Regions from separate parts of the Homo sapiens genome. Here all the other regions are linked to region 1. The links come from fine-mapping of genetic effects on gene expression. A gene starts in region 1. Each other region holds a variant in brackets. All regions are shown on one strand. Distances are from middle to middle. Region 1 holds the start of KCNQ4 (potassium voltage-gated channel subfamily Q member 4). Region 2 overlaps KCNQ4 (potassium voltage-gated channel subfamily Q member 4). Region 3 overlaps KCNQ4 (potassium voltage-gated channel subfamily Q member 4).

The links. PIP is the estimated chance that this variant, and not a neighbour inherited with it, causes the effect.
Region 2: its variant is the best candidate, but not a certain one, in a credible set for the expression of KCNQ4 in pancreas (GTEx, PIP 0.85).
Region 3: its variant is the best candidate, but not a certain one, in a credible set for the expression of KCNQ4 in spinal cord (GTEx, PIP 0.53).

What each region holds. Positions count from the first base shown.
Region 1 is chr1:40,781,342-40,785,461 of GRCh38, forward strand. KCNQ4 (potassium voltage-gated channel subfamily Q member 4) reads left to right here and starts at 2,446. Exons shown (of 14, transcript NM_004700.4): 1 at 2,446-3,066. The coding sequence starts at 2,753.
Region 2 is chr1:40,809,869-40,813,988 of GRCh38, forward strand. The region is part of intron 1 of KCNQ4 (potassium voltage-gated channel subfamily Q member 4); the gene reads left to right. Among named protein-coding and RNA genes, the nearest start is that of KCNQ4, 28 kb to the left of the region's middle. RefSeq lists an enhancer at 3,507-4,006. The variant C/G (reference allele first, on the strand shown) is at 2,009.
Region 3 is chr1:40,818,893-40,823,012 of GRCh38, forward strand. It overlaps KCNQ4 (potassium voltage-gated channel subfamily Q member 4), which reads left to right. Exons shown (of 14, transcript NM_004700.4): 5 at 455-580; 6 at 983-1,093; 7 at 1,273-1,368; 8 at 3,422-3,510. Among named protein-coding and RNA genes, the nearest start is that of KCNQ4, 37 kb to the left of the region's middle. RefSeq lists a silencer at 1-40, enhancers at 1,865-2,366, 2,078-2,222, 2,120-2,264 and cis regulatory regions at 2,141-2,158, 2,183-2,200. The variant T/C (reference allele first, on the strand shown) is at 2,326.

The DNA.
Region 1 (4,120 bases):
GGGGTCAGGGGAACAGGTGGGAGAGGGAAGGAGGAGGGTAGGGAACCACGGTGTCCAGTCCCCTCCAGCAGAGGGGCCAATTGAGGGAGCCTGAGACAGCTGTTTGCTCAGAAAAGTGTCTTAGTCACTAAAGGTTGTGGTGGGGAAAGTCCGTCCTCCCAGTCATGTCCTGGGAATCCGGATGGCGCAGGAAGGCCACCCGGTGACCCTAAGAGTGGCCACCTGTCCTCTCTGAACTGGACTTTCTCTTCTGGCCCTTCCACTCTTCCATGTGTACACATATGCCAAGTAAATTTGCTGTGGCCTCCTGGAACCATCTCCCCCATCCCTCTCACCCCTTAGGAAGAGTTCTGTGTCCCTCCATTACCCATACGCCCGCAGGAGAAACAGGCTTCTATGCCCTATGAAAGTCCTTCCTGAGATCTAACTTCCATCCCTCTAGCTGCAACCACAGTCTCTTTCCTCTTTCTGCTGCCTTTGAGCAGGTAATCTGGAGCTGGAGTTGGGAATGATGAGACACTCCCTGCAGTGAGGGCTCCTCACAAGGTGGGGAAGGGACCTTTGTAGTCCCCCAGCTGGGAAGAGAGCCATGGGATCCAGAGGTGATGCTGAGCTTGAAGATTAGATTTCCCAGAACAGACCCAGTTTCAGATATTCTGGGTGTTAAGGGCAACCTGAATTCAAATTCCATTTCTGCTACAGAACAAGAGCCTCAAAAAGACCCCCTAGAAACACCCCCAGGGCGCTTGCAACTGCTTTCCTGTGCACCTTTCATGTCCTAGACCTTAGTCCCATTTCCCAGGATCTATGATTGAGAAGAACCAGCCAGGCAGTTCCACAGAGGGAGGACAGTGCTGCATATTTTGGGGGTGCCATCTTCAGCTCATAGAGAGAAGATGGGTTAACTCAGCCCAGGCACCACATCCCTAGTGGGGCCTTGGGGTCCAGAAACTGTCCCCAGCTTCCAGTAGAGGATCCGGGCATAACCTGCCCTGGGGCACCCGGCTCTGGCCCTGGGCACACCTGGACCAGGAGCAGCAGAAGAGATTCAGGTCAGACCCCAGAGGGCACCCCCAGCTAGGCAGAGGGGAAAGGATCACTATGGGGTAGGGGTGTGGGCCGGTTGCCAAGCCCAGTTTAGGGACCCCACAGATCCCTGCAGCCCACGGCCCTGCCTCCCTCCCTCCCTCACTGGCGCTCAGCAGATCAATGCTGCCTTTGCTGACAGCTGAGAATCGAGCTCGCCTTCCCGCCCCTTCCCCCGCCCCTCCCGCTCGGCTTCGTCCCTCGAGATCCTCCCGGAGGAACCGGGAAGAGTTTGCTGCGGAAGGCTCACCCTGGGGCAGGGCCTGCGGAGGGAGCGGCTGGTGTGGCCGCAGCTTTCCGTGGAGGAAGAGGGAAAGAGGATCGGGAAACCCAAGTTACCAACCCTGTGCAGGGCCCAGGAGGGCTAAAGGAGAGGGACTGCCCCCTACAGCCAGAGAGATGGAGGTCGGGGACTAAGAAAAACTTTCCAGCTGGAGAGGGAATGCCCTGGGACAAAGTATCCCCTTTTCTGGCTGGGATTCTGTGGGCCTTGGGTAGGGGGTGTGTGTCCCCTCTAAGGCTGGCTTAGAGCTCATCTCCCAACACTCCATCTGCCCAAACCCAGTTCCCTGACCTGGGAGTGGGGCAGGGGAGCAGGCCCCTCCATCGGGGAGGATCCTCTTCTGGGCAGGGTGGCTCTTCCCCCATCACGATGAAGGGAAGCTCAGAGGTGGCAGTTGGTGGGAGAAAGACACACCCAGGCCCACTGTGTTCCACACACCCTGATGCTGCCTAGCAGCCCGTGGGCTCCAGGCCTTTCAGGTAAGAGCAGGACAACCGCCGCTGCCCACCCAGCCACACACAGCACTGGGCACACTTTAAGCACCCGCACCAGGCACACAGTGCTCGACCCCAACGGACACACCTCATCCCCTTCGGACTCCACCTCCACTTTCGCAGCCACCCACACCCGACCCATAACTCACACCTCACTGACTCCATCCCCGCACCTGGTAGACCCACAGCCACCCACCCTGCACACACAAGTAGACGCCGTTCCACCGGTCTACACCTAAACTCCACGGGACACTGCGTCCCTTCCCCTGCCGCCCGCGGCCACAACTCCACATTCCACTTTCCACAAGCACACACGAGGCGTCCCACCCCGGGCTGGCCTTCGGGGCCACACTGCCCCACGCAGCGGTGGACACCACTTGCACGCGTCCGGCTTCCCGGCCCCGCGCGCTGCCCCCGCCACGCGGTTCGGCCCAGGCACCAACTCGGCCGCCCGTGCGCCCTGCCCCGCCGCCTGCTCCGCGCGTTCCCTCCCTCCGCCTCGCCTCGCTTGCTCGCTCGCTCCCTCCCGATTTGGGAAGGCGGCCGCGGGGCGGGCGGGGGAGGGGCGGGGCGGGGGAGGGTGACATGTGAGCGGCGCGCGCCGGTGGCAGGTGGAAAGGCGAGCGGCATGGAGCGCGTAATAAGAGAGTTGGAGTCGGAAAGAGCAGCCCCAGTCGCCGGGGAAGCGGGAGGTCAGTGCGGGCTCCGGCGGCCCCCAGGCTCCGAGCGCCCGCCCGCGGCCCCGGCCCGGCCCCTAGCCCCCGCCGCCCGCGCCCGCCCCGGGTCGCCCCTCTGGCCCCGGGTCCGAGCCATGCGTCTCTGAGCGCCCCGAGCGCGCCCCCGCCCCGGACCGTGCCCGGGCCCCGGCGCCCCCAGCCCGGCGCCGCCCATGGCCGAGGCCCCCCCGCGCCGCCTCGGCCTGGGTCCCCCGCCCGGGGACGCCCCCCGCGCGGAGCTAGTGGCGCTCACGGCCGTGCAGAGCGAACAGGGCGAGGCGGGCGGGGGCGGCTCCCCGCGCCGCCTCGGCCTCCTGGGCAGCCCCCTGCCGCCGGGCGCGCCCCTCCCTGGGCCGGGCTCCGGCTCGGGCTCCGCCTGCGGCCAGCGCTCCTCGGCCGCGCACAAGCGCTACCGCCGCCTGCAGAACTGGGTCTACAACGTGCTGGAGCGGCCCCGCGGCTGGGCCTTCGTCTACCACGTCTTCATGTGAGTTTGCGACCCCGCGCCCTTCCGCGTTTCCCCGCGCAAGCCTGGCCTCCCGGGGCACGGCCGCCCCGCCCTGGCTCCGCCTTCTACCCCCCTGCCTCAGGGCCGACCCTCATCTCTCTCCCCCCAGGCCTAAGCCCGGTTTCTGATCCCCTCGCTGAGCCCGACCCTAAGCCCTGATCTCCCAGGCCTGACCCCTGCTTGACCTCGCTTCTGACCTCCCCGCACCGCAACTGCTTATTTCCATCCTGACCGCCAATCTCTGCTCCTCTGTCCCAGGTACTCCCGACCGCCAGCTGCCTCCCCCAAGTCCGCTTGGCGAAGTCTGGGGCCCCTGGAGTGGGCGCCCTTTTCCTCTTCCCCACCCCTGCCTCCCTGTGTCCCAGACACAAAGAGGAACCCTTGGCTCCCACACGCTTCTGTCACCTGCTCCCCAGCTCTGAGCTATGAAGGGCTCCCCTCAGGGGTGCTCCTCTCCAGGGCGGCCCTCATTCCTACCCCTGCCCAGCTGACTGTGGGTGTGTGGGGGTCCCTGTGGGCCCCCTGGGCCCTGACACTCGCATATGCTGTGTCCGACTTGATCTGTGTCTTCGCTCAGTCTTCCCCTCCACCCTCAACTTCCCAGTGGCAACGGCGGCCGCCCTGCCTGCCCTGCCCTACCCTGCCGGCTTGGCCCAGCTCGCCTGCCTTGTTGGCTGGCAGCACCAGGCCTGGCTCTAGGCACCAGGGGAAAAAGAAAGAGGAGAGGGGTAGGTTTGGAAACACTGACGCTGCTGGGGCCCCCTCCTCCCTCTCACCAGGCTCCTACAACTTTCAAAAACACTGACCCCTCTTGGGTGTGAAGAGTGAATTTTGGCAGCTCAGAGCTCAGTCTTGGGGTACGGCCTGGCCCAGCCAGGAACATGAGAGGCCCCGCAGATATCAGTTGAAGGGCTGGGCCTGACGCTGGGACGCTCAGAGGTGCCCAGAGAGAGACCTCTGGTCCCTGGAAAATGTGTGGCTATTAATCCCTTTTTGCTGCCACCAGAGAGGGCCCTTTGGCGCTGGGGTCTCC
Region 2 (4,120 bases), 29 kb after region 1:
AGCCTGGCCAACATGGTGAAACCCCGTCTCTACTAAAAATACAAAACTTAGCCGGGCGTGGTGGTAGGCACCTGTAATCCCAGCTACTCGGGAGGCTGAGGCACGAGAATCTCTTGAACCCAGGAGGCGGAGGTTGCAGTGAGCCAACACCACTGCACTCCAGCCTGGGCGACAGAGTGAGACTCCGTCTCAAAAAAAAAAAGAACTCTACAATGACTCCCCATTGCCTTTGGGATCATGTTCACAGTGCCTGAGAATGCTACTCAAGGCCCCTGGGTCTGGCCCTCTCTGGTTTTTCCACTGCCCCCTTCACTTTAGGCCACACCATCCAGAACTGCTGGCCGTTCTGGGCTGCCTCGACGGCCACATTCCCACTGCTTGCACATCCTGCTTCCTCTGCCTGGGGCACCCCGACCCCTGTCCAGTTACCTCCTCCAAGAAGTCTTCACTGATCCCTCCACTTTGGTTGTGCGGAAGGCTTCTTGGGACTCTCCCCGACCCCTTGAGTACACTGTCATGGCCTCGTCCATCCCGTCACCACTGTGTCATGTTCTGTGTTGTTAATTCCTTGGGACCTGGATTATTCATTTCTGGTTTTACAATAAACCTGGCTGAGTGTAGGTGTCTGAAGTGAATATAGCCCAGAGAGGTCAGGTGACAACCTCTTTTCTGCTGTGAGATGCCCTGCCATCTTTCCTACCCCCATCATATCCCCATCTCTCTGGCCTGGCCTCCCAGCAGCTGTCCCTCCAGGGACATGTTGGACATGTCGAGAGAGAGAGCCGTGGACACTGGGCAAACGCCCAGTGGGTATGAAGAGAGAGACCTCAGCTGGATCCAGGGACATCCCCAGAGAATCTGGAGCTGAGCTGATGGCCGATCCTCTCCACCCCACTGCTGGAGAGTTACCAAGCTACAGGGACCTTAACCATCACTGAGTTGTCCCCGACCTTTGTGTGTGTTTCTGACAGGGAAATTGAGGCCCAGAGCATTAGTAGGGCCCGGTGGTCCAGGTGGTCTTGGGCTCAGGTCCTGCGCTTATGACTTTGAACAAGTCATACCTTTCTTTTCTCATTTGAATAACAGCTTTATTGAGATATAATTCACATACAGTAAAATTCCTCCTTTTAAAGTGTTCAGTTCAGAGGATTTTAGTGTATTCACAGAGCTCTGCAGTCACCACAGTATACGCCTCTGAACCGCCCTCTCCTTATCAGGGTGATGATGGTACGGTTCCATGGGGTCACTGTGAGAACTCATTAAGAACATGCATTTAGAGGGCTTGGCACAGTGTCTGGCCAATAGGAAGCCTTTGGCCAGCAGGAGCAGTTATGGTTATTACTTCAGGTCACCACATGAGAGCCACCTCCCCAGCAGAGCTTTCCCCCTCCTGCCCTGTGGCCGCTTCTGGACAGTGACTTGAGGAGGTATAAATGTGGAGAAGGCGGTGATTGCAGTTGTTTAAAAGCCCTGAGCTGGCTAATAATTGAGTCAGCTGCAACTGCTCCCATCACCTAAGCCAGTGATTCTCAAAGTGTGGTCCCCATAACAGCAGCAATAGTATCACCAGGGACCTTTGTAGAAAGGCATATTTTCCACTTCAAACTTACTGAATCAGACACTGTAGGAATAGGTCCCAGAAATCAGTATTTTAACAAGCCCTCCAGGTGACTCTGACACCCACCGTAGTTTGAAAACCACAAATCTAAGCAAACCATTCACTTTTTCATCTCTAATCCTCTTGCTCCCTCCTGAACGAGTGGGATAGTCATGGGATGGGGAGATGGGGGAAATGGAGAGGAAAGGTTGGATAAGCCTTGTGATCAGACCAGCTGGGGAGAGCCAGCCAGGCAACACCCGCCTGTCTCATTCTGCCTCCTGGGCTGGGCAGGGAGAAAGAACATGGGCCACAACTTGCAGGCAGACATGATGGGCAAAGATGTCCTAGAAAGTGGCCGCTAGTCTGGCCTGTCTGCTGGGGAGATTAGAGAGGGCCCAGGCCAGCCAG[C/G]ACCCATGTTTCATCTATATTTGTATAGATGGAGAAACTGAGGTCCCAGAGGGGGCCAGAGAGAATCCTTAGAAAGTCCTTTGTTGGATGAATGAAGCCACACCCTAGTTGTGGCAGGCATGAGACCCCAGCTAAGGGGCTCCTTCACCTTGTCTCCTCTACCCCTGACCTCCAGATACTGATCTCTCTTCTGCTGTCCCTGTGTGAGGACCACCCCCACTCCAGGAAGGCCAAGGCAGCTTGAGGGTCAGCCTGAGCTGGGGTTCTAGCTGCAGCTCTGCCACTGATTCACTGTGTGATCCTGAACAAGTCTATCCCTCCCTGAGCTCTATTTCCTCAGCTGGAAGATATGGATAATTATTCAGGTGCCTGGAACACAGGATCTTTTCTTTTTTTGAGATACAGAGTCTGGCTCTGTCCCCCAAGCTAGAATGCAGTGGCGAGATCACAGCTCACTGTAGCCTCAACCTCCCTGGCTCAAGCGATCTTCCCACCTCAGCCTCCCGAGTAGCTGGGACCACAGATGCACACCCCCATGCCTGGCTAATTTTTGTTTTGATTTTTTTTGTAGAGACAGCATCTCACAATGTTGCCCAGGCTGGTCTTGACCTCCTGGACTCAAGCAATCCTCCCACCTTGGACTCCCAAATGTTGGGATTACAGGCATGAGCCACCGCGCCTCGTCCCAGGATGTTTTCTATTAGTCCAAGTATATCCCTTCAAATGTAATGAGAGTATCAAGGGTATAGAAACTCTTAGCCAGTGGGTTAAAGCAGGGAGAAGTGAAGTTTGGGGGCTTTTTAAGCAGCGTCCGCCAAATGGAGATGGTCAAGGTCAGAGGCGTTACTTTTTAGGAAAGACATGGGGCAGCCAGAGGAGTCAGGGATGGATGTGCTTTGGGGACCTCTTCAGTGGGTACAAACTGGAGGCTTTGGCTTGGTAACATGGTGTTTTGATGTTTGGTTACAGTGAACTCCTGCTATTCATTTACTTAGTCTTTCAATAGTGCTGTGAAATCAATCAAGCAATCGGTCAGTCAGAATAAGGGGCAAGAGAGTGGAGATGAGGCCATTCTTTCAGAGAGGGGATGGCTGGGGAGGCCCCTCCAAAGAAGTGGCATTGGAACAGACCTGGGTGAGGCAGAGGAAACAGTAAAGCAGGTTCAAAGCCTGGAGGTGGAAATATGTTAGGTGTGTTCCAGGACTGGCAAGGAGGCCAGAATAAGTGGGGTGCAGTGAGCCAGCAGGAGAGTGAAGAAGGTCAAGTTTGGAGGCGGGGGTGGAGGCACAGACCTTGCAGGGCCTTGTTGTCAGTGCCGAGGAGTTGGACTTTCCCTCTCTAAGTGCGATGGAAGTCCGACGAGAGTTTTGTGGAGAGCGATGGTTTCCAGCTGTGCATTGTGGGAAGATGACCCTGGCTGCGTTGAAGGGAGTGGTCACATTCAGGCACAGTGGAGGCAGGGAGGCCAGGTAGGTGCCAGATGGTGGCGGCTTGGTTGGGATGGTGCGACCTGGCCTGCCCAGGGATAGATTCTGAAGGTAGAGCCAATGGAATTTGCTCAGAAGGGGATGTGCAGGGGGAGGGAAAGGAAGAATGAAGGAGCCTGAGCCCTGGGGGAGCCGTGGTGCCGTTACTGAGATGGGTAGGCTGGAGGTGAGGAGGACTTGAGGACAAATTGAGAACTGGTGTTTGGAGGTGTTGGGTTTGAGAGGCCACCAGACATCCAAGAAGAGTCATTGAGCAGGCATTTGGACACACGAGCTGGACACCTGGGAGAGGCTGCCACATCCTCACTCCTGCTAAATGGCAGAGGCGACTGTGGTCAAGGGGTGGGGCAGGATCCAAAGTGGGCTTTTCTTGTTTTTGTTTTTGTTTTTGTTTTTGTTTTTGAGACGGAGTCTCACTCTGTCGCCCAGGCTGGAGTGCAGTGGCGCAATCTTGGCTCACTGCAAGCTCTGCCTCCTGGGTTCATGCCATTGTCCTGCCTCAGCCTCCCGAGTAGCTGGGACTACAGGCATCCGCCAGCAAGCCCAGCTGATTTCTTGTATTTTTAATAGAGACAGGGTTTCACCGTGTTAGTCAGGATGGTCTCGATCTCCTGACCTTGTGATC
Region 3 (4,120 bases), 38 kb after region 1:
GGATCAGGGGGCGGGGCCGGAGAGGCGGGGCTTGAGGGTTTCCCCTGGATGCTTCTGGGTTTGAAGGGACCACTCGTACCACAAAGTGGGCAGCTGAGGTGGGACTTGAGGGTGGGGCTGGAGCGGGGCTAGGGTGGGCCCCAGGTGGAAGCCTGAAAGTGGGACTTGGGGGACGGGGCAAGGTAGGCCGGGTGCTGGAGTCCTGAGCCTGGAACCTGGAGACTCAAGGCAGGCGGGGTGAGGGTGGGGGTGGGAATGGGGGTCGGGGTAGGGGGAGTGCTGGCGGTTTCGCGAAGGCCGGGGCAGGGTCGCCGTGATGGGAGGAGCTGAGAAAGAAAAGCGAGCCTGGGACTCCGGGAGATGGGGGACCTTTATCCCTTTCCCGTGTGGAAGCCCCCCACATCTCCCAGGCAGGCACAGCGCTCCTCACCGCGCCCCTCCGCCTGCCCCGCAGGAGCTGATCACCGCCTGGTACATCGGGTTCCTGGTGCTCATCTTCGCCTCCTTCCTGGTCTACCTGGCTGAGAAGGACGCCAACTCCGACTTCTCCTCCTACGCCGACTCGCTCTGGTGGGGGACGGTGCGTGAGGGTCTTTGTAGGGCTGCCCTTCTCCCTGGGATCCTCCCTGGGAACTTCCCGAGGTCTGCCCATCGTGACTCCTGACTCAGGGTTGAGCGGGCCTGCCCCTGCCCTCTCACTAGAGCTGGGACCCCCCTGAGACCAGCCCCAATGCTAACCCCCCAACCTGCTCTGGTGGACCTGCCTCTGTCCCCAGCTAGCCCCGCACATCAAGACCTTGTGACTATACCCCTTTCCCCTGACCAGCCCAGGAGAGGGAGAATCCATCTATGACCCTAACCAGCCCCCGTGGGTGACCAGGGGCCCCTTCCCTCATGATCAGGCTCCTACCTGCCTGTACCCCCAACAAGCCGTAGGTGGCCCCCGTGACCAGTCCTGCCTGTAACCTGTTTGTGTCTCCAGATTACATTGACAACCATCGGCTATGGTGACAAGACACCGCACACATGGCTGGGCAGGGTCCTGGCTGCTGGCTTCGCCTTACTGGGCATCTCTTTCTTTGCCCTGCCTGCCGTGAGTTGCCTCCTGCTCAGTTGGTGGGGGAGGCTGAGGGTGGGACCTGCTCACCCCTGTCACACATTTGCCTGGGGAGCCTGGGGTACCTCAGAGGGGCAAGGATGGGGACACCCTTGCAGCCTCTTACTGCCCCACCACTGCCAGCACATTCCCCCAACCATGCCCTATCCCTCTAGGGCATCCTAGGCTCCGGCTTTGCCCTGAAGGTCCAGGAGCAGCACCGGCAGAAGCACTTCGAGAAGCGGAGGATGCCGGCAGCCAACCTCATCCAGGTACAAGATGCCCGGGAAGAAGCCCTAGGAGCAGGGCCGTGTGACTGCACTGGTGTGTCAACCCTGTGTGCTGACCCATGTCCCCAGCCCAACTGTGACACCACTTTGAAGCTCAAAAGGGCTATGTGACTTTCCTGGAGCCACATGCCAAGTCACACACAGAGCCAGGATGCTCACTGACAGTGCCAGAAACTTCCCCCTGCACCAAATGCCTGGTTTAGGGCTAGCCAGAACTGCCCTATTGCCCAACTCCAGCCCAACTTCACAGGGCCTGGGGAGGGGCGGAGCCCAGACAGGAGCTGGGAGGCCTCTGGTGGAGACCCACTGCTGCCCCCATCAGCTGTGCAGCAGTAAGCCTGCCCCACTTCCAGCACCTTCATTCATTCATTCATTCCACAAGCACTCACACAAATGAAGAGAGGATGGTGCAGACAGGGCTTTTAGGAATCTCAACATTTAGCAGGTGGGTGGGCCTGCAAAGTTGAGCTGGGCAAGGAGACAGAAGGAACAGCCAGAGGGGTGGGTAGGAAGCCAGGAGTGTGTGGTCTCAGTTTCCCTCTGTGCCATGGCGTGTTGTGACTGTGTGTGGGCTGAGGCCAGGGCTCTGATTTTCTGTGACCCTGGGACTAGGCCTTGGCTTTTTCTAGTCAGGGGTGTGTGTAAGGGAACTCCTTGCAGGAAATGCTTCAGGGAATACTGGCCCAGTCCACCTCTGCCTGCTCCCTAGCCTGTCACCCTCTGAGCCCCAAACCCAAGCCTCACTCAGCCCTTCCTTATCTCTCCTCCCCAGGGTAGAACCCTCCTCCCTGTCGCTGTTATCTCCAGCCACCAGCTCAGCCTTTTCTTCTTAGCGTCCCTTGGGGCACAATGGCCACTGTCCCCTGGGAGCTGGCCTTCTGAGGGGCATTGTAGGGGCAGGCGGCTGGCACTGTCCATGCCAAGAGACAGCTAGTATTG[T/C]GGTGCCCATAATTAATGAGACAGCTCTGGCAGCTGCTCCCCAGCCCATGCCAGGGGCCTAGGCAAGCAGGAAGTAAAAATATTCCTGTCTTAGGAGGGTGCCTGGCTGGTGAGGTCAGCAGTGGCAGCCCCTTAAGGACAAGAGGCATCCAAAGAAGGGAGGCGTCCAGGGCCCAGCTCTGCCTTGTCCTGCCTAGCAGCCTCCATGCCTCCCTGCTCTCACTGATGGCCACACTCACAGTCCCTCCCTGGCTCTTCCTACGTGGAGGGAGAGGGACAGTCTCTCCTCCTGTCTGACTTTCATCCCTCCTGCTGCAGAGGAAGCTCGGCAAGCCCATGGATGCTGAGGGGTTGGTAGGTAATGCTTTTCCTCCCCTCTCAGTCCTTAGTATTCCCATGGGCAGTGACAGGCAGCTGGGAAAGATGGAGTGGCATTGCTAGTAATAATAATGACATTCTGCAAACATTTGCAAAGCACCCACATGTGCCAGACACTATATTTGCACTGAGAATGCAGCGGTAACAAAGACACAGCTTGCAGTCTAGGGGGAGAGAAAGTTATCAGTCAAATACACAATGAATAGGTATTCATCAAATGTGATAAGGGGAATAACAGGAGTGTTTAACAGAGGAACCTGGCATGAAGTGCCTACTATATACCAGGCACTGAGCTTGGCATTTAATATACAACTGTTCATTTAATCCTCACAACACCCTGGTAGGCAAGTAGTGTTACATGCGTTTTACAGGTGAAGAAACTGAGGTCCTGAAGCTTTACTTAATTTGTCCTCACTAATAAGGGGCAGAGCTGGGATTGGAAACCCATGTCTGCCTGACAACAAAACTCCAGCTCTTAACCTCTATGCTCTATGGCCCCTGGCTCTGACATTGATCTGCTTTGTCCCCTCGGGGAAGTCGTTTCTCCCTAGGCCTTACTTTCTTGGCTGCCCCTGTCAGTGGCTGTGGAATTGGAACTGGCCTCTGGCTCTGGGTAACCCACAACTGGACCAAGGACTGGGTTCTTTCAGGGGAGAGGGCTGGTGGGGACTGAGAGGCCTCACTGATGCCCCATCCCCCACGTCCCCCATACCACCAGGCTGCCTGGCGCCTGTACTCCACCGATATGAGCCGGGCCTACCTGACAGCCACCTGGTACTACTATGACAGTATCCTCCCATCCTTCAGGTAGGTCCTGCTGGGGGTGGGGGTGGGTGGGGGGCTGGCAGCAATGCCCTTTGAGGACAAGTGGCTGAGACTCAACCCTGGAGGGTGGAAAGGGGGTGATGGCTCCCAGGGGAGCACCCTGGGCTGGCTCTGCAGATCCTATGTAATTCAGAGCCTGGAGTGTCCTTTATTCCACTCTGCTATGCCCAGGGAAGAGGTGGATACTGGACATAGGGCATTGGTGAAGCCCTGCCCCATGGCTGAACCCCGGCCCTGGAGTGCTGGCAGTGTGCATGCTCACCCATAGGTGATGCCATCTAGGGCAGTGATACAGCCAGCTCGTCTCCCCTCAGTCCTGAATGGGGGACAGAGTTAGTGGATATTGCAGCTGGTTGGAGAAAGTGTGGGATGGGCAGAAACATGTGTTCCAGACTTAGGTGCATGCTCCTACCCTGAACCCCCATGTAGGAATATGTGCCCACTTTTACTGGGCCAGTCAGCAGCCTCAGGGCCCAGAAGTGGGTCTGCCCCACTGGCCCGGGCCAGGCTAAGACTGCATGGGGGTGGCACCAGGAGAGGGATTATTAATAGCATCACAAAGGTGCGTGTGGCCAGGTGCCTGGCTAGGCCC